Linked DNA regions of Homo sapiens. The protein of the gene in region 4 interacts with the protein of the main gene of each other region in a biochemical or structural test. Each region holds a gene or a part of one and is shown on either strand. Other genes may lie near its edges. The genes, in order: SIGLEC11, FGG, MBL2 and TLR4.

What was found.
Region 1: the proteins of TLR4 (region 4) and SIGLEC11 form a complex in vitro, tested with the Homo sapiens proteins (one study listed by IntAct).
Region 2: the proteins of TLR4 (region 4) and FGG form a complex in vitro, tested with the Homo sapiens proteins (one study listed by IntAct).
Region 3: the proteins of TLR4 (region 4) and MBL2 form a complex in vitro, tested with the Homo sapiens proteins (one study listed by IntAct).

The regions. Positions count from the first base shown.
Region 1 is NC_000019.10:49,958,074-49,965,410, forward strand, and holds the start of SIGLEC11 (sialic acid-binding Ig-like lectin 11 isoform 1 precursor), read right to left. Parts: upstream 3,100-7,337; 5' UTR 3,081-3,099; coding exon of another isoform or gene 3,009-3,080; coding exon 2,933-3,008; intron 2,863-2,932; coding exon 2,479-2,862; intron 2,349-2,478; coding exon 2,064-2,348; intron 1,748-2,063; coding exon 1,700-1,747; intron 1,551-1,699; coding exon 1,287-1,550; intron 1,005-1,286; coding exon 957-1,004; intron 828-956; coding exon 570-827; intron 498-569; coding exon 210-497; intron 1-209. UniProt on the Homo sapiens protein: Putative adhesion molecule that mediates sialic-acid dependent binding to cells. Preferentially binds to alpha-2,8-linked sialic acid. The sialic acid recognition site may be masked by cis interactions with sialic acids on the same cell surface.
Region 2 is NC_000004.12:154,609,571-154,617,553, forward strand, and holds the start of FGG (fibrinogen gamma chain isoform gamma-B precursor), read right to left. Parts: upstream 3,087-7,983; 5' UTR 3,040-3,086; coding exon 2,962-3,039; intron 2,866-2,961; coding exon 2,821-2,865; intron 2,632-2,820; coding exon 2,448-2,631; intron 2,329-2,447; coding exon 2,235-2,328; intron 628-2,234; coding exon 497-627; intron 194-496; coding exon 60-193; intron 1-59. UniProt on the Homo sapiens protein: Together with fibrinogen alpha (FGA) and fibrinogen beta (FGB), polymerizes to form an insoluble fibrin matrix. Has a major function in hemostasis as one of the primary components of blood clots.
Region 3 is NC_000010.11:52,769,541-52,777,167, forward strand, and holds the start of MBL2 (mannose-binding protein C precursor), read right to left. Parts: upstream 3,245-7,627; 5' UTR 3,197-3,244; intron 2,120-3,196; exon of another isoform or gene 2,105-2,119; 5' UTR 2,096-2,104; coding exon 1,909-2,095; intron 1,247-1,908; coding exon 1,130-1,246; intron 1-1,129. UniProt on the Homo sapiens protein: Calcium-dependent lectin involved in innate immune defense. Binds mannose, fucose and N-acetylglucosamine on different microorganisms and activates the lectin complement pathway.
Region 4 is NC_000009.12:117,699,564-117,707,472, reverse strand, and holds the start of TLR4 (toll-like receptor 4 isoform A precursor), read right to left. Parts: upstream 3,071-7,909; 5' UTR 3,001-3,070; coding exon 2,908-3,000; intron 1-2,907.

The DNA.
Region 1 (7,337 bases), on a different chromosome or scaffold from region 4:
GAACTTACCTTAAATAAACAATCCTCCTGTTCTCCATATTGCTCTCTCCGTTCCTCAGTTTCCCGCAACAACTACCAGCCACAGAGCAGGGACTTTGTCCCCATCCCTTCCCACCACGCCCACACCCTCTCCCCACAACCTTGAACCTTCATCTTTCTAGGATCCTGTCTCCTTTCTCCCTGAACCTCAGCCCCCCACAGTCCCCTCACCTGGTAGCAGCTGGAAGACAGAGCCACTCTGGGCCCCGTGGACGTTCCAGGCCTTACAGCGGAGCCTGAGGCCGGAGCTGAGCCCTCCATGGAGGCTCAGGGAGCTGTTGGCCCAGGGCCCGGCTGAGCTGGGGGTGACCTCGAAGGAGCCCTGACTGCTGTTCCCCTCCAGCAGCTCCTCCCCAAGCCACCAGCGCAGAGAGGGGGCCGGGCTGGCCTGGGAGGAGCAGCTGCAGTGCAGACCCTCAGCCTCCCAGGAGCAGGAGGGGCCCAGCAGCTGTGGAGGGTCTGTGGGGAGGGAGGACAGGACTCAGCAGGGGCCCCTTCCTGGGACCCAGGTGTCCCCTTTCCCCCACTCACAGTGCACGGAGAGGCTGAGAGAGACGTGCTGGGAGCCCAGAGGGTGCTGAGCGTGGCAGGTGAACTCTCCTTCGTGCTCCATTTGAATGGGTGGCAGCTCCAGGACCCCGGGGTCTGAGGGCTGGGAGGGGCCCACGGTCTGTCCCCACCGGGTCCAGCTCAGCCTGGCTGGGGGGCTGCTGTGGGTGACACAGACCAGGCGCAGGCTTTGGCCCTCCAGGACCGGGAGGGATGTGCCGTTCCCGAGGTTTTCCAGGACTAGGGAAGGAAGAGGCAGAATCGACGTGCAGCTCAGGGCTCAGGGACCCTCCTGTGTGGGGACCCTCCAGACTCCTGGGCCCCCAGTTTGGCACTGAGAGGCCCTGGCTCCTCTGTCTCCTTTCCTACCTGTCCTGTTTGCTTGGGAAACCATCACTCTCAGGTTCTCTGGAGGATCTGAAATGGAGACAGGGGACCGGCTCTAGACAGACCAGGGGCTTCCCTCTGGGTAAAGGGAACTATCCTGGACACTGAGGTGGGGGAAGTGGGTGGGATAGAAGGGCAGGGCAGAATCACCCACTGAGTCCCAGACACAAACTGCATGAGGGTCTACACAGGTAAGAAGGTCAGTCCCCGAGGCCTGGGGTTCAAGACCCCCTCAGCTCTGGGACCCTGAGCCCAGCCCCTGTATCCCTCTGCCCTCCCAATGGACTCCAGGCCCCTGCTAGGCACACTCACACTGCACAGAGAGGTCCAGGGCTTGCTGCTGGGAGCCAAGCCTGTTCTCCGCTCGGCAGGTGTAGCGCCCTGAATCCCCGGCCCTTACCCCACGCAGCTCCAGCCCCAGGGTTCTGGGGCCCCAGGGGTGGGACGAGGAGAGGACTCTGTCCTGCAGGACCCAGCTCAGCGTGGCAGGGGGCTGGCTGTCAGCAGCACAGAGGAGCCGCAGGAACTGGCCTTTCTGAACTTCCAGATATATGACGTTTCCCTGGAGTTCCAGGGCTGAAGACAGGGAAAGAGAGAGGGTGGGGGTGGAGAGAGAGAATGGGTGGGAGGGGGGGCTGCAAAGAGGACCACATCCCCTCACCCCCCTGAAGCCTTTTCATCCCTAAAGAGGACTGGCCCAGCCCCAGCCCGAAGGCCCTCAGTACCTGACGTGTTGTCATGTGAAATGCTGATAATAAGGTCTTTGGGGGCATCTGCAACAAGATTGTGAGCTGGCTTCAGGGAGGGACAATTTGTTCCTCACACCTGGAAAAAACTCCCTCAGGGAAAAGAAAGTGGGAACATCCCAGGATGGACAAGTGACAACCAGCTCCAGGGCTCACACATGTGGACAGAGGATCAGACGCCATTCCCATCCCCCTCCCAGGGCTGAGCCGGCATCCTGGGACCCCACAGCTTCCTCTCCCTGGATGCTCCTGAGCTGGGAGCCACTCACTGTCCCGCTGGGCTCCTCCACCTCCCCACCCACCGGGGCTGTCTGCACGCCCCACCCTCCCAGGCCACACTCACAGGCCACACGGAGTCGGACGGTCCTCTGTGCGCTCACACCCTTTCTGGAGAAGTCCACATGGCAGGTGAGGTCGGTGTCGTGGTCCTGGGGGCTGGGCGTGAAGCTGAGCACTGAGAAGTGGGAGGTGCTTGGTCTGGTTCTTCTAGGGGAGAGGGCAGCCCCCGTCCAGGAGAAAGAAGGGGCTGGACATTTCTTGAAAGCCCAGTTAAACACACAGATGACCGTCACCGGCTGCCCGGGCTCCAGGGTCTCGGGGATGTAGACATCAGGCTTCTTAGTCAGGGCTGGGACAGAGACCGGGTGGGAGATTCTTGTGCTGCAGGGGTCCCTGAGAGCCCTCTCTGCTCAGCCCATAGCCTGTCCCCAGGGTCCCTCCCCAGTGTGACAGGCAGGGGTTCCCACCCCATTCCATACCTGTTACTTTTAGAAAGAACGCATTGCTCAGGAAACTATGTCTCACACGGCTTCCTCTCTCCACCCGAAAGAAGTACCATGCCTCATCCTCCCTCTGCGCGTCTCTGATCACCAAGGAGCAGCTCCCTTTGCCGGGATCCCCAGTGAGCTGGAATCGGTCCCGGGTGCTCATTTCCACCTCTCGACTCTGGTTGTTAGTGGCCACAGGAGCACCCGTCTTTGGGCTGGTCCGTCCTTTGAACCAGTAGCCATAAGCAGCAGTAGACTCGTCCCAGCCATCCCGGGGGTAGGAGAGGTTGCAAGACACGATGACACACAGGCCCTCCGGCACCGGCACCTGCCTCTGCACTTGAAGACTGTAACTGGGATCCTTGTTCAGGGACCCTGGGGAGATGCAGAGGCTCAGCGGCAGCCCCAGCCCCTGCCTGGGACCCCCAGCCACCGACCCACTCACCCGCCCCCAGCACGGGCAGCAGCAGGGGCAGCAGCAGCATCTCTGGGCTCTGGGGCTGGGCCTGTCCCGGGACCATCTGGCTTCTGGGCCGGCCTGGCTGGGAAGGAAACTCCTCCAGCAGGAAGCCTGGTGGAGGGGCAGTGACCATCCACAGAGGAGGAGCCTCGGGAACCGCTATGTCCTGAAAGCTCGCTTCCCAACTTCTCCTTTCACAGGGGAAGCAGCAGGGCAGAGGGCATGAGGACCAGCCCCAAACCAGGAAGGAGCCACCCTGGCCAGCCTCGGAGGTGGGCAGTGCTAGGAGGGGACTGTCAGGGGACACAGGTGAGTCACGGCTGCAGGTGAGGTGATGGATGCAGAGTCTCATTCATTCATTCATTCTCCAGGGGGCCATGAGACACTGGAAGAGTCTACAAGAACACAGTGATTTATGGTGGGGGCTTTGCACCACGTATTATTGCTGTATCTCCACAGAGGGTAAAAACTAGGTCAGCCACACAGGCAGTCAGCTGCATCTACGTGACCAACCCCCAGTAAAAACTCTGAATGCCGAGGCTCAGGTGAGCTTCCCTGGGTGGCAATACTTGCTGTATGTTGTCACTCATCTTTGCTTCAAGCATTAAGCGCTTTCTGTATGACTTCACTGGGAAAGGACAACTGGAATCCCACATATGGTCTCTTCTGGATCCTGTCCTATGAACCTTTCTCCTTTGTTGATTTTTATTTATTTATTTTTATTTTATTATTATTATTTTTTTGAGATGGAGTCTCGCTCTGTTCCCCAGGCTACAGTGCAGTGGTGGGATCTCAGCTCACTGCAAGCTCCACCTCCCGGGTTCACACCATTCTCCTGCCTCAGCCTCCTGAGTAGCTGGGACTACAGGCGTCCACCCCAACGCCCGGCTAATTTTTTTCTTGTATTTTTAGTAGAGACAGGGTTTTAGCGTGTTAGCCAGGATGGTCTCGATCTCCTGACCTTGTGATCCGCCCACCTTGGCCTCCCAAAGTGCTGGGATTACAGGCATAAGCCACTGCGCCTGGCCATTTTATTTTTATTTTTGAGACAGTCTCACTCTGTCACCCAGGCTGGAGGGCAGTGGTGCAATCTTGGCTCACTGCAACCTCCGCCTCCCAAGGTCAAGTGATTCTGCTGCCTCAGCCTCCCGAGTAGCTGGGACTACAGGCACCCACCCACCACCATGCCCGGATAATTTTTTGTATTTTTAGTAGAGATGGGGTTTCATCATGTTGAGCAGCCTAGTCTCGAACTCCTGACCTCAGGTGATCTGCCTGCCTCAGCCTCCCAAAATGCTGGCATTGTAGGCGTGAGCCACTGTGTCTGGCTTGTTGATTTTTTTTTTTTTAGATGAAGTTTTGCTCTTGTTGCCCAGGCTGGAGCACAATGGCATGATCTCGGCTCACTAAAACCTCCACCTCTCAGGTTCAAGCGATTCTCCTGCCTCAGCCCCCTGAGTAGCTGGGATTACTGGTGCCCACCACCATGCCCAGCTAATTTTTTGTATATTTAGTAGAGATGGGGTTTCACCATGTTGACTAGGCTGATCTTGAACTTCTGACCTCAGGTGATCCACCTGCCTCGGAGTCCCAACATCCTGGGATTACAGGCGTGAGCCACTGCGCCCAGCCCTGCCTTGTTGATTTTTAAAAAGTATTTTTATTAATATGTGATATTTGTACATATTTATGGGGTATATGTGATATTTTGTGCCATGCATAGAATATGGTATAATCAAGTCAGGGTATTTGAATATCTGTCACCTCAAACATTTATTATTTCTATTGTTGGGAACATTTCAAATCATCTTTTCTAGTTATTTTGAAAAATACAATACGTTATTATTATTTTTTAAGACAGGGTCACTCAGGCTGGGCACTGTGGCTCACGCCTGTAATCCCAGCACTTTGGGAGGCCAAGGCGGGTGGATCACAAGGTCAGGAGATCAAGACCATCCTGGCTAACACGGTGAAACCCCATCTCTATTAAAAATACAAAAAATTAGCTGGGCATGGTGGCACGTGCCTACAGTCCCAGCTACTCAGGAGGCTGAGGTGGGAGAATGGCGTGAACCCGGGAGGTGGAGCTTGCAGTGAGCTGAGATTGCACCACTGCACTCCAGCCTGGGCAACAGAGAGAGACTCCATCTCAAAAAAAAAGAAAAAAAAGAAAAAAAAGACAGGGTCTGTCTGTCACCCAGGCTGGAGTGCAGTGGTGAGATCACGGCTCACTGCAGCTTTGACCTCCCCAAGCTCAAGCAATCCTCCCACTTCAGCCTCCCGAGCAGCTGGGACTACAGGTGTGCACTACCACTTAATTTTTATACTTTGTTTTTGATAGAGATGGAGTTTTACCATGTTGATCAGGCTGGTCTCAAACTCCTAGGCTCAAGCGATCTGCCTGTCTCAGCCTCCCAAATTGTTGGGATTACAGGCATGAGCCACCACTACAATATGTTACTGTTAACTATAGTCACCCTACTCTGCTATTAAACATAAGAACTATTCCTTCTATATAACCGTATATTTGTTAGACAGACCTCTTCATTCCCCACCTACTCACCCATGCATCCTTCTAGGGTTCCGATAACTATTATTCTACTCTCTGCCTCCATGAGATCATAGTCCATGATCTCTGTATGCCTTTATGTATCCATAGCTTAGCTCCCACTTAAAAGTGAGAACATAATGGCATTTGATTTTTCATTCCTGAGTTATTTCACTTAGAAATATGGCCTCCAGCTCTGTCCGAGTTGCTGCAAAAGATATTATTTCATTCTTTTTTTATGGCTGAGTAATATTCCATGACAATGGTATACATACCGCTGCCTAGACCAATGTCCTGAAGAGTTTTTCCTAGGTTATCTTCTAGAATTTTTTGGTTTCAGGACTTAGATTTAAGTCTTTGATCCATATTGAGTTGAATTTTTTTTTTTTTTTTTGAGACAGAGTCTCACTCTGTCGCCCAGGCTGGAGTGCAGTAGCATGACCTCGGCTCACTGCAACCTCCACCTGCCAGGTTCAAGCAATTCTCCTGCCTCAGCCTCCCGAGTAGCTGGGACTACAGGTGCCCGCCACCATGCCTGGCTTGTTTTTTGTATTTTTAGTAGAGATGACGTTTCACCATGCTGGTCAGGCTGGTCTTGAACTCCTGACCTCGTGATCCTCCCGCCCCGGCCTCCCAAAGTGTTGGGATTACAGTCGTGACCCACTGCGCCTGGCCTAATTTTTGTATTTTTAATAGAGATGGATTTTCACCATGTTGGCCAGGCTGGTCTCGAACTCCTTACCTCAAGTGATCCACCTACCCTGGCCTCCCAAGGTGCTGGGATTACAGGCATGAGCCACTGCGCCTGGCCAAGGATTGATTTTTGATGTTTTTTTTTTTTGAGACAGAGTCTTGCATCTCGCTCTTTCATCCAGGCTGGAGTGCAGTGGCACGATCTTGGCTCACTGCAACCTCTGCCTCCCAGGTAGCTGGGATGACAGATGTGTGCCACCAGGCCTGGCTAATTTTTGTATTTTTAGTAGAGACGAGGTTTTACCATGTTGGCCAGGCTGGTCTCGGACTCCTGACCTCAAGTAATCTGCCCACCTCAACCTCCCAAAGTGCTGGGATTACAGGCATGAGCCACCACATCCAGCCTGATTTTAATGTTTATAGTTTATTGGCGCTTAATTCAGGTCTTGGTGCTTTCAGGGATGAAGGTTCTGTATGAGTTCCTTGGTTGTAGAGAGTCCTTGTGCGCTGGCTTCTCAGTTGCTGGCTGCAGTGGCAATGTGCTCAGTAAGATGGTGATCAAGTTCATCATCTCCTGTGGGGTTGGAATGGCAGAGGTCTTTTGAAGCTTACCTTGTTCCACTGTGGTGTGCACTTTTAAATTAATTTATTTTTTTCCCCAGTATTTTATTCACTGGGTTGAATCATTAAGGCTTCAGGTTAGTGGGGACGTGTCTCTGGGTAGAAAACAGTTGTGGCTGGCCGGTGCGGTGGCTCACGCCTGTAATCCCAGCACTTTGGGAGGCTGAGGCGGGTGGATCACGAGGTCAGGAGATCGAGACCATCCTGGCTAACACAGTGAAACCCTGTCTCTACTAAAAATACAAAAAAATTAGCCAGGCGTGGCGGCGGGCACCTGTAATCCCAGCTACTCGGGAGGCTGAGGCAGGAGAATGGCGTGAACCCAGGAGGCGGAGCTTGCAGTGAGCCGAGATCGTGCCACTGCACTCCAGCCTGAGTGACAGAGCAAGACTCCGTCTCAAAAAAAAAACAAAAAAAAGACAAAGAAAAAAAAGAGGCCGGGTGTGGTGGCTCACGCCTGTAATTCCAGCACTTTGGGAGGCCAAGGCGGGTGGATCGTGAAGTCAGGAGGTCAAGACCATCCTGGCC
Region 2 (7,983 bases), on a different chromosome or scaffold from region 4:
GCCATATGGCAGAAACAATGTAGGAATTTATTAAATACACATGGTGGGGAAAAAATTACCTTCTGAAACACAGTCCATCCATTTCCAGACCCATCGATTTCACAGTAGACTAAGAATTGCTGGTTAGCTTTCAGAGGTTTAATAAAGTAAAGCCCGCTCTGTTTAGCTCCCTTATTGGCAATGTCTTGACAATCTAGAGAAGGAGAATCGACTTTTACTGTGGTTTGAAATGCAGGTAAGACTGTGCCAGCCTTGAAAAATAGCTTTTAACATGTAGTAAACTATTCATTTTCCAAGAATAATTTTCTTACTTTTCACATCAGCATTCCTTTTAAACTGTTTTTTTTAGCTATTCAAGAAAGGTCTAGACAACTGAAATTCTTAGACTTAATGGGTAGCCACTTTCTAAACTATTCCTATACTTTCCAGTACATACTTTCTCCTTTACATTACTTACTTTGATGAACCTAATCCCAATATAACCTTCATCAGTTACCTTTCCCAGTGATATCATGGATTTGCACCGTGTCTTTGCAAGGTTCCTGGCACTGTGCTTCAAGCTGGGCTACCTTCTCTTTCAGGTTAACAATCTTTTGATTATTTGAATTATATATTTCCTGCAAATATCTACAAACAGAAACATAAGATAACAAAAATAAGAAGACAAAAATAAGTATTCCTTTCAGAAGAGTAATTTTATATTTTCTTTGGAAACTGCTAAGTATTTTCTTAAGAAGTGCTTTCTGATAAATTATTCCATTCTTGAGGAAAATGTAAAATTATATTACTAAATTAACATGAATTAAAATTATAAACTTTTTGAAAAAGAAAAACAAATCAAAAAATCAATTAAAACAGGAATACAATGTGGACCTGAATCTTTTTACTTAGAATGGGGCATATTGTCTCAACTCCCAACACAAATAACAAAGTCCTTGTCAATAAGCAAATGTCATTGACATTTTGCTTTTTACTTTATGCATAAGGGACAGCAGATAGCAACCTGCAAGAGTGGCGGGACTGGTTAATAGGAACACCCCCTGATGCTTTAGAAGCAGGAAAAGCTCAGTTCAGTAATTCACATGTGCTGAAGGAGTATACCTTTCACTTGTGGATCTACTGAGGCTATACATATAAGCTTCAATCTAAAATATAACTTACACAGGGACATGATCTGGAACGTTATTGTATGTAAAATAAAACAACAGATACTTCCCCTTTCTTCTTTAATGCTTCTGGTTACATAGCTTTGGGAATGGACTGGGGGAAGTAAAAACCCTCCTTTTGTAGTTACTTACAGGGTGGCTTGCAAATATCCAAAAATGATAGAAAACTGTCTACAATGCATAAACCGTTCTTTCTTTGAAGTAAAAAAGGGTAGACAAACTATTTGTCCACGTTTTCCCTCTACCTTGTCTTAGGCAATTTCTGTACAATAACCTCCTTCAACTTCAATGATGGACAATAATAATGCAAGTAATAATAATAACAATAATAACAAGGGCCCTCTGATAGCAAAAAGAGGAGAAATCTTTCCTGGGCCACTTCTCCCTAGCTACTATTTATCTCAATTTCTCAAGCTGCTTTGAGAAAAATTCAGAAAAAAAAATTGGGGAAAAATATTAAAACTGTATCTGAGACCTTATGTTCAGAAAGTTTATGAGTCCCTGAGAAGCTTTAACAGAGACATTCACTTCCAAATGAAGGGAAGAGACTATGCAGGTTCATTCTGCAATGATCAATATGAGCTTTGCAATATTTGCCACACTTAGTCTCTCAAGACATGTTTCTTCCTGCTCCACATTCAATATAATTTACTTTAGGAGCCAAAATCCTTACTATGCCTCTGCTTGCTAATTTTTTTAACCACCAATTTGTCAGCATTTTTATAAAGAGGATTTTATTTTCAACACCCAAATTCCTATGAGATTGATTTTATGTTGTAAGATAAATGGGGGATGGGGAAAAAATTTTTGATAAATATGGTCAAACTAGCATTTGAAGACATCTAGAACATCTTTCTTCAATGTGATTATTAATAAGCAATTATAACCCAGTATAATTTATATTGCACTAAAAACTTCTATCTCTACTATGCTCAACATAATCAGGCATAATGTCACTGGGATATTATAAATGGGGAAAACACATTAAAAATTACTTTCACTCAAGTATAGAATATTAAATAAAAACTAAATCAGTCTTGCAGAGCAAATTAAAACAAAAATCCTTACCGAATACTTGAGTCATGTGTTAAAATCGATGCTTCATATTTCATAATTTCTTCTAACATTTTCCTGGACTTCAAAGTAGCAGCGTCTATCATATCTGTAATATAGGATCAGAGACATAAAAATCCTTAAGCAAATAGAACAACTAAAACAACAGCAAAAGAACTTCACAGATTATTATTATTATTTTTTGGTCAGTAGTCTTTATTTTCTCACTTGGTTTTGATGATTCATCAGGATTATAAGTGAGTTGGATTGCTTTTATCAGCTGTTTGACTTCTGATGTTTTGTTTTCAACTTGATGTAAGATGTCTTCCAAAGACTGTAGATCCTTGTCTACTTTGGTTTGATAAGTAGACAGGAAATCTGCAATGCCACAGGTAGTTGGACAATAACTACCCTGAAAATATAACAGTGATTAAAAATGTAGACAGATGCTACTCTTAAAATCTATTAAGAAAAATAGGTAAAACCTAGACTATGTTTTTAAAAAGTTACAAGTGCCAGATGATATTTATGAGGGAATTATTTCTATTCCTCTGCCCCTCTCCAGTTCACACACAAAGGGAGAAACATAAAAACTACTTACGAATCTTTCATCTAAGATGCAGCAGTTGTCTCTGGTAGCAACATACTAAAAGAGAAAAAATACAGAAATTTCACTAGTTTATTATCTGTTTTATTTTCCAGCTTTCCATTTTAAACAACGTTTTGTGAAGAGCACACTTACTGCTACACATGTTGAAGAGAGAAATAAAAGAGCATAGAAGTAGAGAATTAAATTCCGGGGGTGCAAGGACCAACTCATGATGTCTGAGTGCCCGGAGCTCCGAGCCTTGTAGTGTCAGCACTGTCACCTCTCAGGCTCCAATTGTCCCTTTATGTAAGCTCCTGGGATAGCCAGGACTGCAAATGGCTGGAGCTGATCACGGGGCCTCCTTACCAGAAGGGTGGGCAGGTCTTTCCCGTTCCTTTTTCCTCATCCTGGCCCCCAACCTATACTGTCAGGTTCCCAGATTTTGCACACAGGTTGAAGCTCCTCCTTTTTGGCCCAGCTCAAGGTTTTTTCTCTGATCCAAAATTATCTGCAAAGGCTAGTGAAGCATTATCCATTGCTGTGAGGAGGAGGGCAGTCCTGGAGGCTGTGTGATGCAACTTCTTCCAGTACATGGCTGAGAGCAAACAGATATGACCTCGAACTAAGCAAACCTAGTCTATCCTTAAGATGGGTCCTGCTGCCATCACCTGAATTACCAAAAGAACTTTCTTAGCTTAGGGATCAGTTAACACTATTATTTTAGCCTAGGGATCAGTTAACATTATTATTTTTAATCTGTGGCTGTGGCAGGAGGAGACTGACTTCCCCCATGTCCCAGTTCACTATTCCCAGGAATGAATGACCCTGGAAATACATTCCTGTCCCTCTGTGTCAACCATGTTCATAGGCTCTCACTTCTCAGGGAGCTTTTGAGCTCAATCTTCCCTTTGTCTGAAGGTGGGCATGGCACCCCATCTGCCACAGAGAAAAGAGCCAGGAGCCCACTTCATTGTTCCTGTGGTTCCATCAAGCTATCTCAGAGAAGAGAAAAATCCACCTCCCTTGTATCTAAGGAGAGTAGAGGCATAGCTGAAGGAAGGGGCAAAATGAGGTGCTGGGGAGGGGCCATCATTTCTGTTTGGCCCTTACAGCATCCTTGTGTTTGGGAAAACATGTCTGTCATCACTGCCTATTGAGATTTATCACTGGGCGTTACACTATTATTAATGTCTCTATTTTTGGTTATCCCTCATTTCTTCCTCTGGAACCAAGCTTATTATAAGTTTTGATGAAATATGTTAGTGGGAGAAATGCCTCCAGTTTGAAAGAAATACTAATACTTTAATTCTGTCTTTACAAAGGTATATTTATTGACTCAAAAACAAAGATAAATATTCATATTCAGTAAATAATCAATAATTATAACAAAGTGAACACATCAAAACCAGATTTGTTGCTTTTCTTCTCCTCCTTAATATATCCCTCTCTGACTTAGCAGTTATTGTCAATCATATCACCATACCACCAGCCAATTAAGTCTCACAATCTTTCTCATCCATCTTTTCCACTCAGCTAATCAGTTGTCAATCAAGTCAGTTGAATTAAACATTTAAGTATTAGTATTCTTTCAAACAGCTCTACCTCAGATAGCATTTGTAGCAACCTTATATTATATGTATACATGCTGTATCCACTGCATTAGATTGTAAACTGATTTCTGTGGCTACGGCATCTAACATATATAGCTGTACTTAACATAGTTGTAGTTAACACTCAATAACTATGTAATGACTTGAATCAGTTGCCTCTGTGAAGAAGAATGGGATGCAGAGGTGGAGGACAGGATTGGAAAAAAAGGCTTTATTTTTCTCTGTAAACTTTCTATATTTAGAATGTTGAATGTATATAAATATTATCTACTAAAATATATATAATGAAAATATGTAATTATTGATCATTCACAAAGATTTACATAGTACACTGATAATTACATCTTGCTAACTTTTTAATATGATTTGAACATGAAAGGTGACTCAGGCATTGCCTTTGCCTTCAAGAAGTGTGTAGCTCAATTGGAGAATGTATAAATAAATAGTTGTTAAGGCTCTGGAGTCCATCTCCCTAGGTTTGAGTCCCATCTTTACAATTTACTGGCTGTGTGATTCAGTACAAGTTACTCAATCTCCTTGAGTTCCATTATCCATGTCAGTAAAAGAGAGATAATACTTATGATATGGTATTTACTTAATAGGGCTATTACTAAGATTTAGTGGGATAATGTGTTGAGCACATTACCCAATTCATGGTAAGTGTTAAGTAAATGTTTGTAAGGTTTATGAATTACCAAATATATTTGGTATAAAATCTATGTAAATAGGAAACTCTTTTAATAGAGCTATTATTGGTAGATTTGGTTCACAGGGAACAAGCTTTGTTGTTCTAGCTACAGAAATTCTCTTTAATAAAAAATCTGTTGCAACTAACTGCAGTCTCCTTCTGTAAGATTCCCCAGAGAAGAAAGCACCTGGTCGTTTAGTTTAGGAAATTCTATCCAAATTGATTTTACCAATCAAAGATCAAATGATAATATAAATGGATTGCATGCCTTGTGAGAAGGTATACTTCCTATCTGTAAGAATGTTCAAGCAAAGTGTGTTTAGACAGAGCATGTCTTTGTGGTTCTTTTTGCTGAAGACCATAAAATATTAGTTTGTTGAATTTAGGGTAACAATTCATGCAGCCACAGGTTGGGTTCTGAGCTCCTTAATGTCATAAAGTTTCATTGGTTGTGTTAAGATATATAATATTCACAAAGTTGATAAACATTTAAATTGAGGACATTAGAAATTCTATCTTATCCCATTTTAGAAGTGGAATACTTGTATTACAGGCTTTTAACTGACTTATATTGGAATCCAGATGTGTTATCACAATTTTAGAGAAAATAATTTCCTTTTACTACAATCTCAAGTCCTAAATCCAAATCATATAAGACAAGATGCTTGCTCTCTGAGAAAAAAAAATGGTCAACAGTGATTTAGCGGTCTACATTGGCCCTGCATTCAATCTAGTATCACTTAGGTTTATTAAATTTTAACTAGTTTTTTCATGTTTGGGCCAATTTTTTCTTTGAAAAATGATAAATGATTGATGAATTCCAGGAATGAAGAATGTTTCTTAAATCACAGTTCTTCTACTTCCAGGTATGTTTTTTGAGATAATAGCATAGGTAGTATTTAAGCCAAAATAATCATTTACTGTAACTCTGAGGTCAGTGGGCTTGTTTATTGAAATAATAATGTCCCAAATTCCCTATCGTCCAACCGTTTGTGTTCTGATTTGAAAACACAAATCTACAGCTAACAGTCTTCGTGTATATTGGTAATTTACTCTGTGAGCCAAGTCTGTTACATTCATCTTTGCTCCAAAATTATTTGCTGAATTTAAATTTGATTATGTAGAAGACTTCTTGACCTAGTGACAAATGATATAGCCCTAAGGAATAATAGAAAGAACTACCAATTTTGAGCATCTTCTTTATGCTAGATATTATGTGGTAGTATAGTTTTTGTTGTCATGTATATTCTCTCATTTAATCCTCACCACAAGCCTAGGAAGTAGATATAATTACCTGTATCTTATAATGAAAAAAGAAAGGCCTAGAGATGTTGTGTAACATATGCAGGGTCAGTGTGCCAGAACAGGAACTCAAACCCATGGGGCCCAATGCCTGTGCTCTTAACCATGAATCTTAATACAACCATGAAGCCCTTCTTAATTTAAAATAATACACAGATACAAGGTGTTATGAGACTCAAAGTTATTCACTGATAGAATGGATTTTAAAGATGTGTGTGTGCATCTACATAACTGTGTGCATGATTATTTGAACACACATTTACATCTATCTACCAACTTATCTATCTTCTTCTCTGGGTTAGAGACAAGATTTTGTGAATGATCTTTTACAGTCTTTGAGTATTTCTCAAACCTAGATTTGTGTTGTTTTATGATTAGCTTGTGTTTATGGTCCTTTTTTTTTTTTCTCTCTCTTTAGAGATGCAGCCTAGCTTTGTTGCTCAGTCTGGCCTCAAACTGAACTGCTGGGCCCAAGTGATCCTCTTGCCTCAGCCTCCTGAGTAGCTCGGACTATGGGCACGTGCCAATGCACCTGGCTTCAGTCCAATTTTAGATGGAAGCAGTTTTTCAATGCTAACTGCATGGTTCAAGTTTAATAGGACTTGATAAATTGAATTCCATCAGTAAGTTAAAGGGAGAGACAGCCACTGCGTGGTCAAGGAAGCTCAAATCAATGGCGACAATGATATATCTGTTTTTCTAACAAGTAAACCATTTCTAGATCTAAGCTAAATTTATAGCCTGAACCCTCAGAACTGGATTTCCTAAAAACTGGCAGAAAGAAAATGACCTATTGGCATACTGAAAGCCAGTCCAACCTAATAGTAAAAATATCCCATTAAGGGCAACAGAGTTGTCTGTTAGAATATTTGCTTTGTGTATAAAAATAGCCCAGGGAAAGTGAAAACGCAAAAGTTTCTTGGTAGTCTGTGAACAATGTGCTTTTAGTTTCACTATGTAAATCAAAGACAAAAACAACATTGGGCACAAGTAAAATGGACTCCCTCACTGGCAGCAGAACAGCACCCACAGGTTGAGTTTTGCACTTCTTAACTTCATAAAGTTTCATTACATGTGTCATTTGGGGGATCTGTCCTAGCGGCAGGGATGTTGAAAAATCTCTGCTGTGATTGGAATTTAGGAAATAAAGTACTGGGTGCCTAGAGAAAGAAGGATTATCCCATTGGCAATTACAGAGGCCAAAGAGGCTGGAAATTAGCCATTTTTAATACTAGTTTGAGACTAAGGAATGATCTGAGGTGCCCTGGATTGAGACAAATTGAACAGAGAAGTTGGATTTAAGTGTTTTGCTGTGCCACATTGGTATCTGCTACTGGTTTGTTTGTGTTTTTCCATCTTTGTGTAATCTACGATTTTAAATCTCTCACCCCATGAAAGAATTTTCATGACTAAATATGATTAGCAGGAGATTTACAAGAGCAAATGAGTTTGGGGGGAAAAATAAACCACCACCAACCAAGGGGCCAAGTTATATTCACAAGAATGTGCTCCGGAAAGAAGAAACTTTTTAAGCCTTTGAGTAGAAATACTGGCCTATGTTGAAAGTGGACAGGC
Region 3 (7,627 bases), on a different chromosome or scaffold from region 4:
AGTACGCATACATATCACATGCACACATATACTCCCTGATTACCTAGCAATCCATATGCCAGGTTCTTCACAGATTTTTTTTTCAAATAAATTGTTCTATCAAAACTAAAAAGAAATCTCTTGAGGCGTTACTCTATTATGACCTGGTGAAGAGTGACGAAAAAGATTGCAGAGTTTTTGTCTTTGGAGAGGTTTTGCTTTTGATGTCTTTTGTTTTGTTTTTGTTTTTTCCAGGTTTGTTCTGTTAGTCAGGAAACCAAGATTTTTGTGAGTTGCCCATTATCCAAGTGGGGAGGGCATGAGCAAATCACTTGTTGTAGTAGATGGCAAAAATGGCCTCAATAGGGTACAGCTCCTCGCATTAAGACATGAGTCTATTACCCCACTCCTTGAATCTGGGCTGGCCTTGTGACTTGTTTTGACCAATACAGTCTGACAGAAATGATAATGTGCTCTGAGTCTTCAAGAAGCCTAAAGCCTATCTTATTTCTACTCTTGGGAATCCTGTAATCACTGCTATGTGAACAAGCCCTGTTGGATGATGAGAGATGTGGTTCAATTACCCTCATCACTCCAGCTAACATTCAGACAACAGCCAGACACATGAGTGAGACTATTGGCCATCAGTTGACCACAGACATGTGGGTAAGCCCAGCTTAAACCAGCAGAGAAATCACATGGCCGACCCACAGACTTGTGATTTAAATTGACGGCTATGTTTTTAAGCTATTAAGCTTTGGCTTGGTTTCTTATGAAGTAAAATATGACATACCATGGTTACATGCTTTTGTAAAAATAGGTATAATAAGCCCACACTTAGATGGCCTGTTTTCTCCCTCTAGGACCAGGGCCTCACATTAGACTGTTTCAGCTGATGGAGAATCCAGGCTCAGCTCTTACAGGGAGTGCCTGATGAGGGAGTTGTCTTGAAAAGTTTGTAAGTCTGTACTCAGGCACTTATAGGAATTCCCTAAGGCTCTAAGAATGAAGAGAGGGCTGAGGGCACTGGGTCAGAAAGCAAATTTGGGTATCTTCCTTTGAAGGAACAGGAGAAGGGGCACCTCTTACCAGATACTCAAGGTCTCAGAACCCTGGGTGAAGTCAGCTCAGACCTTGCTGGGGTCCTTACCCGGACTTTTTCCAGGGTCTCCTTTTTGGCCCTTTGGTCCTGGTGACCCAGAAGGCCCTGGATTTCCTGGAGGCCCCAACTTTCCAGGGGGGCCCTGTAAGCCTCTGAGCCCTTGGCCTGTTGGAAGACAAAGGAAATGTGACTTAATATCTATGTTCTTGCTCTCTCTCTTCAAGAGTTTGATGCCCAATCCCTTCTCAGGAGAAAGGAGACCTTGACCCAGGACTGACCTTTCTGAGCACTGCTCTCAATAACTGTATGGTGGGCACCTGAGAGCAATAACTTAAGAAATAAAGTTGCCACGTGGAGGTTGCTGCAGGGAGGGTGCAAAGTGAAAATTAACTGCATTTGTTTTTACCAGTAGTTGTTGTTCTCCTGTCCAGCCCACTGCTGCTGGATCTCCCTGTAAACAGATTCCCCCAGTAAAACCTATGTTTGTTTGCTGACTCCATCTCTTCTTTGGCCTCTTGAACCTGGTGCCATCCCTACTGAAGTGAATAGGGGTCTGACATGACAATGACCCAGAGAAGAAAAATTCATCCTGTGTCCCACGGGATGGCCTGACCTGTGGGCCACTTTCCTGGGCTGGCAAGACAACTATTAGTCACAAACTGCTGTGTGGAATTCTGAGATGCCAGAGAATGAGAGCTGAATCTCTGTTTTGAGTTACAGTATAGTTGAGAAAAATATACTCAAATAGGACATCAGTCTCCTCATATCCCCAGGCAGTTTCCTCTGGAAGGTAAAGAATTGCAGAGACAGAACAGCCCAACACGTACCTGGTTCCCCCTTTTCTCCCTTGGTGCCATCACGCCCATCTTTGCCTGGGAAGCCGTTGATGCCTGGAGAGCTACAGGCAATCACTGCAGGGCAGGTCTTTTGGGCATCCTCACAGGTCACAGTTTCTGAGTAAGACGCTGCCACCATACTCAGGAGAAGGAGAGGGAGTGATGGAAACAGGGACATGGTCCTCACCTTGGTGTGAGAAAACTCAGGGAAGGTTAATCTCAGTTAATGAACACATATTTACCGAGCATGCCCTCTGTCCTACAATCTGGGTGCAGGCTATATAGAAATAGATGACCCATCCCTGGCCTCTAGCTGGGGATTTGGAAAAGTAAACATTCCTTGTGACACTGCGTGACTAGTACTTTAACAAAGGTAGGCACTATGATGAGCAGTGGGGATCCTAAGGAGGGGTTCATCTGTGCCTAGACACCTGGCGTTGCTGCTGGAAGACTATAAACATGCTTTCGGTGGCAGTGAGAACAAATGGGACCGTGCATTGCCAGCTGGCTTATGCCTGTTAGCTTAGGGAATGAGAATGAGTGGAAACCCAGGTGTCTGTAGGAGCTTCCTCTTTCTCTCCATGTCCTCTTCGGGTCCATCTGCCACCTGAATCCCATCTTTGTATCTGGGCAGCTGATTCCCCTCCAGGACCTGTTAACTATCATTTACTCATTGGCAGGCCCTGAGCTGAAAGCTGGTGATCCAAAGAGGAAGGTCTCAACCTCAGATCAACCTCAACCTTAGTCACCAACCCAGCCCAGAATTAACTGGAGTTTGCTTCCCCTTGGTGTTTTAGACAGGCTTGCCTGGGTAAGCATTTTCTCTGGAAATTTCTTACTACGTTGGCCCTGGCAGAGTGCTAAATACCTCTCTACTTTCTGGCAGGAATTCCCCATGTTCTGTGAGTCAAAAACCACTGGCAATTAGAAAACTTGCCTTGAATCCTCCTCCCATTTCTCAGTATTAACCTTTCATTTGTTCTTCAGAGCTTTCTTCCAGCTATTGCCCCCTAAGAAACCTCAGCAGCCTAGCCCCATAGGTCTAAGCCTCCAAGTTTCCCTTTGAAAACAAAGACAGTCTCCACTGCAGATGAACAGATAATGGAGGAAAGTCACAGATGCTCCAGCACAAGCAGAAAAAGAGACATCCTCAACCTGATTTCTGCTTTCCATCCCACTCCCCCCACCCCTAGAAAGCCTCCTCCATGCCTCCAGGGTCATGTCAGCTCCCCAAACCCTTGATCCGGAAACCCAGATTTATTCACCAGAAATGACTTACTGGTGTTTCTGCAGAGCAGGGACTCAGTGACAAGGACGCTGGCCCTCTAGCCTGGGGCTCTGGCAGATGCCTCAGAGTGAGGGAGGAGGCTGGGCTCAGCAATGTAGGGCCCAATCAACCTTGTGAACAAGGATATCCTGGGCCTGGCCTTCAACTCCAGATTAATAAACAGCTCTTCTCAGAACTATGAGAAATTTAGGAGCCTCCAATACAGTGCTCGGCAGCTGTCTGCTTTAATACAGCACAATTCCTCTTTCAATTGCCATCCATTTTGGCAAATCTCATTGCTGAACTACCACAGCTAGGTTCACCTAGTTAGTCCTGTTGACATCCTTGTTTCCAACAGAAAAACAAAGATACTCACAAATGCATACACATGCTCATGCACACCAACTATACACACAGACACGTGCATGCACGCACACACCCATCCATGAAACCACATAGACCTCTTGCTGCCATTAATGCATTAAGGCCATTCCTGCCTCAGACTCTTCATTTGATGTCTCCATGCCTGGACCCCTTACGGGCATCGCCAGCTAGCTCTTTCTCTTCTATTCAAATATTCCAATTTCAGAGAAATCAGTACCTTGATCACTTATTCTAAAATAGTCCTACCTAGCAGTCTCTATCCTCTTAGCCTGAATTATTTTCTCTCATGTTACTTACACTTTATGATATTATAGTCATTGACTTTACTTTTCCAGTTTTTCATTGTGGTAAAATAGACATAAAATTTACCATTTTGACCATTATTATTAAGCACACAACTCAGTAGCATTAAGTACATTCACACGGTTGTGCTATCATCACCACATCATGGGATGATTTTCATCATCCCAAACTGAAACTCTCAACTCATTAAACTAGAATTCTCCATTTACCCCTACCCACAGCCACTGGTAACTTCTGTTTTACTTTCTGTCTCTCTGAATTCATCTATCCTAGGTACCTCATATATGTGAAATCATACAATAGCCCCCTTGTATCTGGCTTATTTCACTTAGCACAATGTCTTCAAATTTCATCCTCATAACAAGAATTGTAAACTGTGTTAAAGACTTTGGGTTTCCTTCCAGGGGGCACTAGAGGGACTGCAGTAGTGGAGAGGTGATCACATTTGAATTTTGCAAGGCTTGTTCTGGCTATGATGTTGAGGGGAACAGGACTGGAGAAAAGCAGATCTAAAAGGAAGTGCTTGCCATGATCTAAGCAGCAGAAGACAGTGGCCTGGGTCAGGGTAATGGCAGCTAGATTAAGAAGGTAGGCACACTTGAGAAACAGGAGGTATTGATTGCACTTGAGAATTAGCTAGAATAGTGAGTGATAATAAGAAGTTTTCATGGGCACACACATTTATGACTTGACTATCTAGGAGCCACTCAACTGAGATAAGAAGCAAAAGAACAGCACTTGGCACTATAAGATCATGGGTATCGTGTGTGTTAATGGCTTGAACCATCTTGCTGTGGTTAATGGGGACAATCTAGAAGGGATGGAAGAATACTTTTACGAACATAGTTCATTTGATTCTCAACTACATTACTGATATGGCTTTCAGAAAAATGCCATGTAGCTTGGGGTGTTGGGGAGCCCATCCTGAGAAGTTCAGAGGCTGCGGGGCCATGTGGTGGGGGTACTATGGAGGCCTCCAAACACCAAAAGAAATGTGAGTAAGATGCATTTCCAGGTCCCTTCCAATTGAAGTCTTCTTGGCTTGTGGAGGGACTGGCTTCCTTACTTCCTGCTGACCTGTCTGCTGTGCCTGGAAAAATGTCCAGGATGGTACAGAGCCACATGCCTAAAGCCATCAGTGGATATCAGGAGATCCAGGGCCTAAAGAAGACAGGGCCTGAGAAGACTTGTTTCCCTTCTTATTCTTTAGCAGCCAGAGCTTCCCCCTGCTCCTGCTCCAGTGGCAGAAGGTGAGGTGAGGTAGTTGACTCCAGGTCACTGGCGGTGCTGGCTTTAATCACAGTGCTTGCTTTCATTGTTTACCTAGTCCAGAGGTCAGGAAACTGCTCTCCAGACCCTGAAATTTCCTAGAACTGGGTTCAGAGGGTGTGGGTATCTGGGGGAAAGTCAATCTAGCAATTGATCCGGAGATTGGAGTGTCACCCAGTTACATCCTGCTCTCCAGAAGGCCTTTCCCAAAAGGAGAGGCCACTCTCCACATGCCGCAGCCTGAATGTCTCTCTCCACACGAATGCCCACTCTGCACTCCACCCCATAGATAAGGCCACTGTGTGCATTTGTTCTGGACTTTAAAACCCTTCCCAGCCAGGCGTGGTGGCTCACTCCTGTAATCCCAGCACCTTGGGAGGCCGAGGCGGGCGGATCATGAGGTCAGGAGATTGAGACCATCCTGGCTAACACAGTGAAACCCCATCTCTACTAAAAAATACAAAAAAAAAAAAAACAACAAACTAGCCGGGCGTGGTGGCGGGTGCCTGTAATCCCAGCTACCCAGGAGGCTGAGGCAGGAGAATGGAGTGAGCCCGGGAGGCGGAGCTTGCAGTGAGCTGAGATTGCACCACTGCGCTCCAGCCTGGGCGACAGAGCCTCTCCGTCTAAAAAAAAAAAAAACTTTCCACTTTCCTAACACTGCTTCCATTCTGGCAGCGCCACAACAAATCCACCTCACCCCAAGAGGCTGCAGAGAAAACTGCCTCTCTGACCTGCAGGAGGACTGCCTGGTGCCCTACATCCCCTTTTTTGTAGACTAGGGTGAAATCCCAGCTCTCCCACTTCCCAACAGTGTGACCTTATTCAAGTTCCACTGCCTTCATGTCCTCAGTTTCCTCGTCTGGGAAAGAGGGCACCGCTGCCTTGGCTGTGGAGTGGTGTGTCCTTAACTGGTCCACATTCAGAGTGCATGGCACGTGGCTCACCATGACAGCCTGCTTAAGAAAGGCCTTCATTCCCTCCAGGGTGACTGTTCAAGAGTCTTCTCAGCTTGGGAAGCAGTGTTCTTGGGTGGCTCCATGTGAGAGGCATGGTTTGAGATTGGAAACCAGAAGGCTTGGTTTTGTCTCATGAATATGAGCTTAGATAGACCCCATATTCTGGCCGAACCTCAGTTTTACATCTTTCAAATCAGATTTTGAACCTCATTCCCTTTTCCACAGAGCTGCTGTGAGTAGGACAATAGCAATGAGAATGTTATTGCTCTCCAAGTGAGGACCATCAGGAATATGCTTATAGTCAGATAAAATGGATTTATTATTTTTAGTTTCTTTTAACTGTTTGTTCCAACAGGGATATTGAGCACAATGGTGTACCCTAGGATTTCTCAGTAACAGGGTGTCGGGAGGGGATTTCTATAAGACTTGTTTTGTTTTAGTTGGTTTTGGGGGAAGGGGTTTAAGAAGCAGGAGTCTGTTCTGGATAGGGTGCTGTCCGTAAGCTGGGCAATTCTGTGATTGTGCATCTTAACTTTTATTTAGGAGATAAGTAGAACAGAGCAAGGCGAAGCTGTATTTTGTAAAAGAGTGGCAGATGTTTATATTAAGCAGGAGAGGGGCATGTTTTTCGTTTTTGTGGTTCACAGAGCAACCTTTTCTGTCTATATGAAGACATGATTTTGGAATGATTTGGGATCTCACAACAGAGTAATATTGTTGTACACCGGTATTCTGTGGAAGTGTTTAGGGTCAGCAGGGAATACCATGGTCTGGCCATGAGAGACAGGCTGTGAGAGACAGCTGACAGCGGTAGGCTGCTTTCTTGTTGTCAGCAGTGTCCTTTGTAACCCTAAGGCCTGACCTTCCCATACTTTTCATCCTGTACTGTCCTGTGTTCCAGTCCTGCTATTTTTTCTTTGCTTGTTTTTGCTCATGAACTCTCTGAGAATGTGTAAATGTCACAGGCCTTCTTTTTAACCAACACAAATACACAGGCGCACTGCATCTGGCAAGGACTACCTTAGGCCCCTATAGCCATGGGGTGGGTGGTCAGAGGGTGTCATATCTGCCCATGTGATAGAGACATGCTTATCTGTGACATGGCCTTGAACACAGGGTGGCTGCAGTGAAAGGCAGCTCAGTAGTTAGGATAGCAAAGACCTGCTCTTTTGCCACAGAAATCAGAACACATGTGGCTTTCAGACTCTCCTCAGACATTCCTTACTGCCATTCTTCCTTCTGCCCCTTCACTCCCAGGCCTGGTATATTCCTTCCACCAGCGTCCTCCCTCTGGGGCAGCTTCCCTCTCTAAAAAAAAAAAACAAGAATTTCCTAGTGGGTGACCATCATTGATAGGTTTCTGGGGCCAGGGACACTTCTTGTCCAGGCCCATTCTCTGCCTCTGCTTTGGCTCACCTGGTGACCTAGAGCAGCATGTGTCAGAGGTGACCAGACAGGCTACACCCCCAAAAGGAGGTTGCTCACTGCTAAGATAAAGAGCAGGCTGAGAGGGGCACGATCAGCACAA
Region 4 (7,909 bases):
GAGTTTATTTAAAAGCCCGCTACAGTATAAGTGATCAATAGATGTCAACATTAATTATTATCATCTATCATTAATCCCTTACCATATGCCTGCATAGTTCTTGTTTGTTATATACTTTCACTTAATCTTCAAATAAGCATTTAAAGATGAGGAAAATGGAAATTCAAAGAAATGAAGTAATATGCGCAAAGTCAGAGTTCAAACATGCAGATCTTCATTCGTATGTCTGCTTAAATGTTGCAAGCCATGGAGCCTCAAAGACAATATTGTCTAATAGAAACAGTGCCAGGCACTCTTTCTTTGCCCTCTTTTATTCCCTTTCACGGGAAGCACAACCATCTAACATTATGTTGTCTATCTGATTGTTCTCATCGTATTGTTCATCTCCTGTATTCCATTGCAAGTTTGATGGGTTTGCCCACTGCTTTGTCTCCAGCACTCAGAATGGTGTCTGGCAAATGGTTGGTGCTCAATAAATATTTGCTGAATCACTAACTGATTGAATAACTGATTAAATGAAGGTTTACTTAAGTCCAAATTGTAGGCATTTCCTGCCAAGTGCTGTGGGCATTACAAAGAAAAATATGATGCAGCTCCAGACTTCAATGGACTCACAGTCTAGAGTAAGAGTTTAGATAGGAGCAAAGCTAACACTATCTCAAGGGGCCATAAAATAGGCTTAGAAAATATGCCCTGTGGTTCAGAGAAAGCAGAGATCAAGTCTGGATTCAGGAAAGGCTTCCCAGAAAAGGAAGATTTTAAAGTGGGTCTTGGAAGATGAGTAAGGTTTAGATATGTGGAAAGGGGAAGAAAAACATGTCCTAAGGAGAGGACAACGTGAGCACGTAAAGAGTGGAAAACAAACTCAGATTAGCTGGTGAGTGGTGGGAGTGGTGAAATCTAAGTAAGAGGGCAAGCCAGATCAGGAGGGCCTCAGACTTTGTCCTGCAGCAATTATTTCAATCATTTATCACTTACACATCTAGCGGCTACTGTGTGCTGGCCACTGGAAATATAGTGGTAAATAAAACCAGCAATGATCCTGCCTCCTTACCGATTCCATTACAAAGGGAGAGAGAGAAAATAAACAAACAAAAATATAAAATGTTGTGCTCTAGAAAAAAAAATATTAAGCAGTATAAGGGGATTTGAGGCAAATAAGTGAGGCTGGAGAGCTCTACATGGGGCAATCAAGGAAGACTGCCCTGAGGAGGGGACATTTAATCAGAGATCTGAATGGAGTGATTAAAGCATGAAAAGGACTTGGGCTGCACTGACCAATACGGTAGTCACTAGCCATACACAGTTATCAAACACAAGAAATGTGAATAGTGTAAATTGAGAAGTGTGGTAAATGTAAAACATATACTAAATTCCAGACTTAGTACCAAACAAGGAATGTAAAAATATCAATAATAGGTAAATATATATTAAAATTTTAAACATTATTTTAAATACGCTAAGTTAAATAAAACTATTATCGAAATTAAATTCACTTGTTTCTTTTTTTAATGAGGCTACTAAAAACTTTAAAAGTACATATGTGGCTCACATAATATTGCCAATGGATAGCACTGATCTAGCATTCTAGGTAGAAGAAATAGCCAGTGCAAAGGCCCTGTGGTAGAAAGCTGTTCTAATGGCAATGGAGAGTTATTAAAAGTTTTTAAGGAGAGTAATTTGTTAGATTGAAGCCTAAGGAAAAATAATAACAACAAATGCAAGTACATAACAAACAAGAACGTGCAGAATGAATTAAAGGAAGAAGACTGGAATCAGGAAAGCAGTTAGTGTGTAAGAGTCAATGCCAGGGGAAATGAGGGCCTGCCTTACAGTGGAACTAAGGGGATGGGCAGGGATGGACAGGCTTCAGGGACTGACAGGAAAAGGTACATGGGGAAAAGAAGTCAAGTTTGGCTGTGGTTTTATCTCGCAGTGAGCCTAATTAGAAAATCTATCTCCATTAACCTAACAGCAGAGGGATACAGAGAAGAGGACAAGGAGGAGGACTATGGGCAGGGAATTGAGGGAAGGGATGGCTTCAAGATAATGAATTAGTCTTTGCTAAATATTACTTGATTTTCTCCTATATCCTCAACTTCAGGACTGCAGCTGGCTTTTTCTCTCTTGAGTTTCTGACCCTGCCTCACTGTAAATCATTTTCTTAGCTGTTCGGCTCTACTATGGGTTTCTAAAGCAACTGTGAAGTCTGCGCAGGGGAAAAACAAAAGAGATCCATCATGAATAAGATTACCAACCAGCTGATTGGTATTTCACTAAGAAAGAAACTGTTGCATTAGCTGACATTATACATATTTCCCTCTTGCTTTTTTCTTCTCTCTCTCTCTCTTTTCCTTTTTCATTCTCTTATTTTTTTCATCCTCTGGACTAAACTATATTACTGCATACAGAAGTCTGACACCCACTTAGAAAGTTCTTTCTCTAGAGACACACACACAAAAGCCATCTTTTTCCTGAGATTGAAAGGAGCAGGGTGACTGCTTGAAGCTGAGTGTAAAGACCACCAGTGGGAAGAAATGACACTGAAGCAGTCTGCTTACTCTCTAGTGAAGAAGGTATTATAATTCTCTTACAGATGCGAAAACTAGTCTCAGACAGGTTTGATAATTTCTTCACAGAGCCACAAGGTAGCAGAGCAGGGACCTTAAGCAGATCTATGTTATCTCATGCCCCTGTTAGCACTCAAAATTTCCAAATGGAACAAACCCCCAATGGCTGCCTCTAGTGCCCTGTAACAATGAATTATTTGATCTCTGTGGCTTCTTGAGTCTTTAAGGTAATTTAACTCTTTTTTTTTTTTGCAAAAATAAACAAACCAGGGCACACAGTGAGAAGTTCTGGGCAGAAGTGAGGGAAAGTTCAGAGGAGCTGACTCCAGCCACATACCTCCACGCAGGGCTCCCAGCTTTCTGGTCTCACGCAGGAGAGGAAGGCCATGGCTGGGATCAGAGTCCCAGCCAGGCGCGAGGCAGACATCATCCTGGCATCATCCTCACTGCTTCTGTGAGCAGCAGTGGCCCTGTGAATGCGTGGCTCGCTATCACCGTCTGACCGAGCAGTTTCTGAGGCACTGGTGTCTTCTCTTCCTCGAGCCGCCCCACAGCAATTGGTGTATTCAAAGCAGTTCTGGGCTAAAGGGTGAGAGGAAGTGAAAGCGGCAACCTTAGCATTCTGGACTTTTGTTTCTCTAATAGTTATCTCTTTTGTCACAGGAGAGGAAGTTAGAAGAAGAAAACGCCTGCAGACCAGTGGCTAAAGAAACAGCAAGAGGAAGCTAGTTGGCTTTTATCCCAATTAGTCATCTGACCTCTGCCTGGGCTTGGTGAATTTAGGAAAACAATCAGGTTCTATTAAAATAGCCCTTGTAACTCTCTAGGATGACGGTGATTTTCCAATTTTGTTTCAGCTGTGGAAACACTATTTGTATTAGTTTGCTGGGGCTGCCATAAGGAAATACCACAGACTGGGTGGCTTAAACAACAGACATTCATTTTCTCACAATTCTAGAGGCTTCCAGTCTGAACTCAAGGTGTCAGCAAGTGTGTCTGAATTCTAATCTCCCCTTCTTATAAGGACACCAGTTATGTTGGATTAGGGCCCACCATAATGACCTCATTCTACCTTACATACCTCTTTCAAGGCTCTCTCTCCATATACAGTCATAGTCTGAGGTAGAGGGGTTAGGACTTCGATATGTAGGTTTTTGCAGGACACAATTTGGCCCGCCCCTTCTTGTGAAGAAACTCACATACAAAACTGAAAATAAACCTCAACTGAAACACAGTTTGAAAAGTACAAGAAGATTGGGAAAAGTCTGGGATTTCAGAATGGAATATACTGAAGTTCAGATCTCAGCTGGGTGACTCATGGCTTTGAGGCATTGGTCAAGTCATGTAAACCGCTAAGCTTTACTTTCTTTCTTTTCTTTTTTCATTTTCTGTATTATGGTAAAATCACATAACATAACATGACATAACATAAAATTTATTATCTTGACCATTTGTATGTGTACAATTTAGTGGCATTAATTATGTTCATATTTTTGTACAATCATCACCACTATTCATTAATAAATAACTCCCCATTTCCCCTTTCCCTAGGCCCTTGAATCTATGCACTACTTTTGTCTCTATAATCTTGACTACTCTAGGCAGCTCTTAGAAGTGGAATCATACAGTATGTATCTTTTTGTCACTGGCTTATTTCACTTTGCATAATGTCCTCAAGGTTCTTTTCTGTGTAGTATAGATCAAAGCCTCCTTCCTTTTTAAAGCTGAACAATATTCCATTGTATGTATAGACCACATTTTGCTTATCCATTTGTCTGTTCATGGACACTTGCATTGTTGCCACACGTTAGCTATTGTGAATAATGCTGCCATAAACATGGTTGTACAAATATCTCTTAAAGTCTCTGTTTTCAATTCTTTTGGATACGTACTCAGAAGTGAGATTGCTGGATCATGTGGTAAATCTATTTTTAATTTTTTGAGCACCCACCATATGATTCTCCACAGCATCTGTACCATTTTACATTCCCACAAATGGTGTACAGGAGTTCTCATTTTTTCACATCTTCACCAACACTTATTATTACTTTCTGGTCTGTAAAATGTGGTAATCACTTTTAATCATAGCAGAAGCTTGCATTTATAAAATGTATTAAAATAAAGATACGCAATGGTAGTCAAATTATACAAACCTACCAACCTTTAGTTTTCTGGTCTTTAAAACGAAGATAATCGCATGTGTTTTGAATTACTGAATTAAGCTAACTTACGTAAAACGTCTAGTCTAGAGCATCATCATTACATTCCATAAATGAGAGCTATGATGAGGATTGAAAATGTGGATAGAATGAAGATGATAATATGTATCTCAAAGTATTGTATTGGGATTAAATGAACTGGCATTTGTAAAGCTTTTAGGACAGTGTCTGGAAAGTAGCAAGTGCAATGTAAGTTTCTGTTAAATAAGAACCTGATTTAAAACAGGAATATTATGCATGCTAAGTCCTAGATAGTTCTACTGTAATATCCTCCAAGCACTTCCAATCCAACGTGTCAAAAACCAAGCTGTGAGGGACCATTTTGTGGTGGACTGGGCACAAACTCTTGTAGACTCCATCAACACACCAGTAGAGTTAAGATAAAAACAACCTCCATGTCAAAGCTTTGCTCTGAGTATTGAGATTATTCATGTAAAGATTTTAGAGCAGTGCCTGACACAGAGTAGGTGCTCAATAAAGTTTAGTTCCCTGGAAAGTTAATGGTGTTTCACTTTGACATAGTCATCCAAGGTGGAAATCTCTTTGACTTTATTTCCCTTACTTCCTCATTTCTCATGCTAAACATGTATTAACCCAATTGTCTTCTTTTCTGTGTTCTTGATGTTCTGGCATCTGGGAAGAGACTGCACTTACCAGGGCTAGTTAGTTCTAAAAAATAGCAAAAGATTTGCTCTGGAGCATGCCTTATGCACACTAAGCAATCCAGAGCCCTTCCTCTGAACCACCTCCTCTACCTGGCTTTTACACCCAAGTAGACACCGTTATTCAGCCCTAATCATCACAGGTCCAGGTACCAGACAACTAGAGACAGACCCTCTACCCCAGAGCCCACTGAGGTTATTCAAACTAGCCAGTCCTATCCCTGCTTACCCTGCCTTGCCTTGCCTTTTCTGCAGTAACAACAATAAAAGCTTGTGCCTATAATTTCCTCTTGCTCCCTCTGCCTCCTGACGGACTCTGGTGCTACCAATGTGGCCCTGCATGGTGTGGCATGCCCCCGCTTCTTAGGAACTGTAAACAACAAACTATATTTCCAGTGGCATCATCTTCTGATCTGTTGTTTTCACCATAGCCGAATAATAAAACCTACATTTTAAAAAATGTTCCACCAAGTTGTAGAAATTGTATCTGTAAAATAATTCCAAAATGTCAGTCGCCATTTCTACTACCATTACTATTGAACATATCCCACGGCCTAGACTAGTTCAATATACTTTAAGAAGCCTCCCAAAGTCTAGATTCACCTCTTTCAATGTACCAGCTCTTCCAATTGATTCTTCATCCTGCTGTTGAAAACATCTTTCTAAAATAGAAATACGTTTAACTCATGTCATGCTAATAATGATTTCAGGCTGGGTATTGCCTAGATAAAAAATCTCCTGGCCTACCCCCATCACATATACACATACAGAAACACTCCACTTCCTAAGAATGAGAAACAAATATGTGGGTCATTTCAAGCCAGACATAACTAGACCCCATTACTGGGACACAGTGCTTAAGTGAATAGAGTAATACAAGTGTGTAATAGACAAATGCACTTTCTTCCCATCATTTGGAGAGGAAACCGCTTGATAGTCTAGATGAGGAACTAAGGAAAAGGGCCCAGGGAAGTCCTTTCAACTATGTTTTCGGAGATGTTAATACATGTGTTTTATAGAAGTCTTCCTGGAAATTTTTCCTATGTGTGATTGGAGAATCCCTGGTGGTGACTTGTAAAGAGGTTTCCTTTTCCTGGGAAATGAATGGGATTAACACTCAATCATTTACTGACCTTAATCAAAGACATCTAGGTTCTATGTTGCTCTTCCAGAAGGCAGACCATGTGTCAAATACAAATTAGAAACTGTAAGCCCCTTGGTTATCAGATCTAACTTGCTTATGTTGATGAACTTACCGATGCAGTATTATAATGAGGTAAGACCGTGGTGATTAGTTACCATTAGGCCTATAATTTCTCCCACAGTAGAATAATAACCACCTCTTGTTTTCTTTTTTTTTACTTTTATTTTTACATTCAGAAGTACATGTGCAGGATGAGCAGGTTTGTTACATAGGTAAACGTGTGTCATGGGGGTTTGTTGTACATAATTAATCGCATCTTAAGCATAGTGGTAGAGATTTGGCCAGAGGCAAAACAAGCCACTTGATCGCCTACATCCTTCATGCAGAGCAAGTTCAACTCAGGACCCATAATCAGTCAGTCAATGGAGGAATCCCATATTTGCCAGGGACCTAGAAGTGTTTGCTTTTATTTGGCAGGTAATGCATATGCTGTAAGAAATATGCACAAAACTGACAAGTGTTAGACTAAGCTAATTGCTGTATAAACTTCCAGATTTTATTGTGACTTAATAAAAGTTTTCCTGGCTCATGAAACACTCAATGAGGATATTTCTGATTGGATTACCCCAGGTATGATTCCTGGTTCTAGGCTTCTTTTATTTCATTATACTTTCATATTCAACATGCAGCCTCCAAGTTTACTGCAGAATGTGAAGAAAGTAGGGGATGATATCATGTATTTAACTACCTCTGCTCAGAAGTGACATGCATTATCTCTGCTCTCATTGCATTTGACCAAAACTAGACCCAACACAATACCAAGTTGCAAGGGATCTCTATCTTCTAAGCTTCAAGGCTCTTCCCCCTACCCAAAACTTAAACACACACACACACTTAATGGTGAGCACCACTTCACAGCACCAATACTATACTGTGGAAGAGGAACACAAAATTCTGTTGATCAGCAGGTTGTATTTATGCCACAACCTTAGAATCCTATAATTTCCATTGCATAGTGATTTTAAAAAAGGTCCCATTAACCTGACATATCTAAAAACCAAACCTCATTCCATCCAACCATCTCAAGTTTTTAAGTTTCATGTTTTTTTCATGTCAACACCTCTCAAAGCAGAATGGTTCTCATATAATTGACAATATAGTACAATTATAATTGGCAGAGTTTTTTTTCTTTCTTAGTGGCAAATAAAGTAATGGTACACCTTATAATCAGTGGTACCTTATATACAACAACAGTTTGTTACTAGGAAGAAAAAAAAGCTCTGTTCAGGTAAGTAAAAGAAACAAATAGTTAAA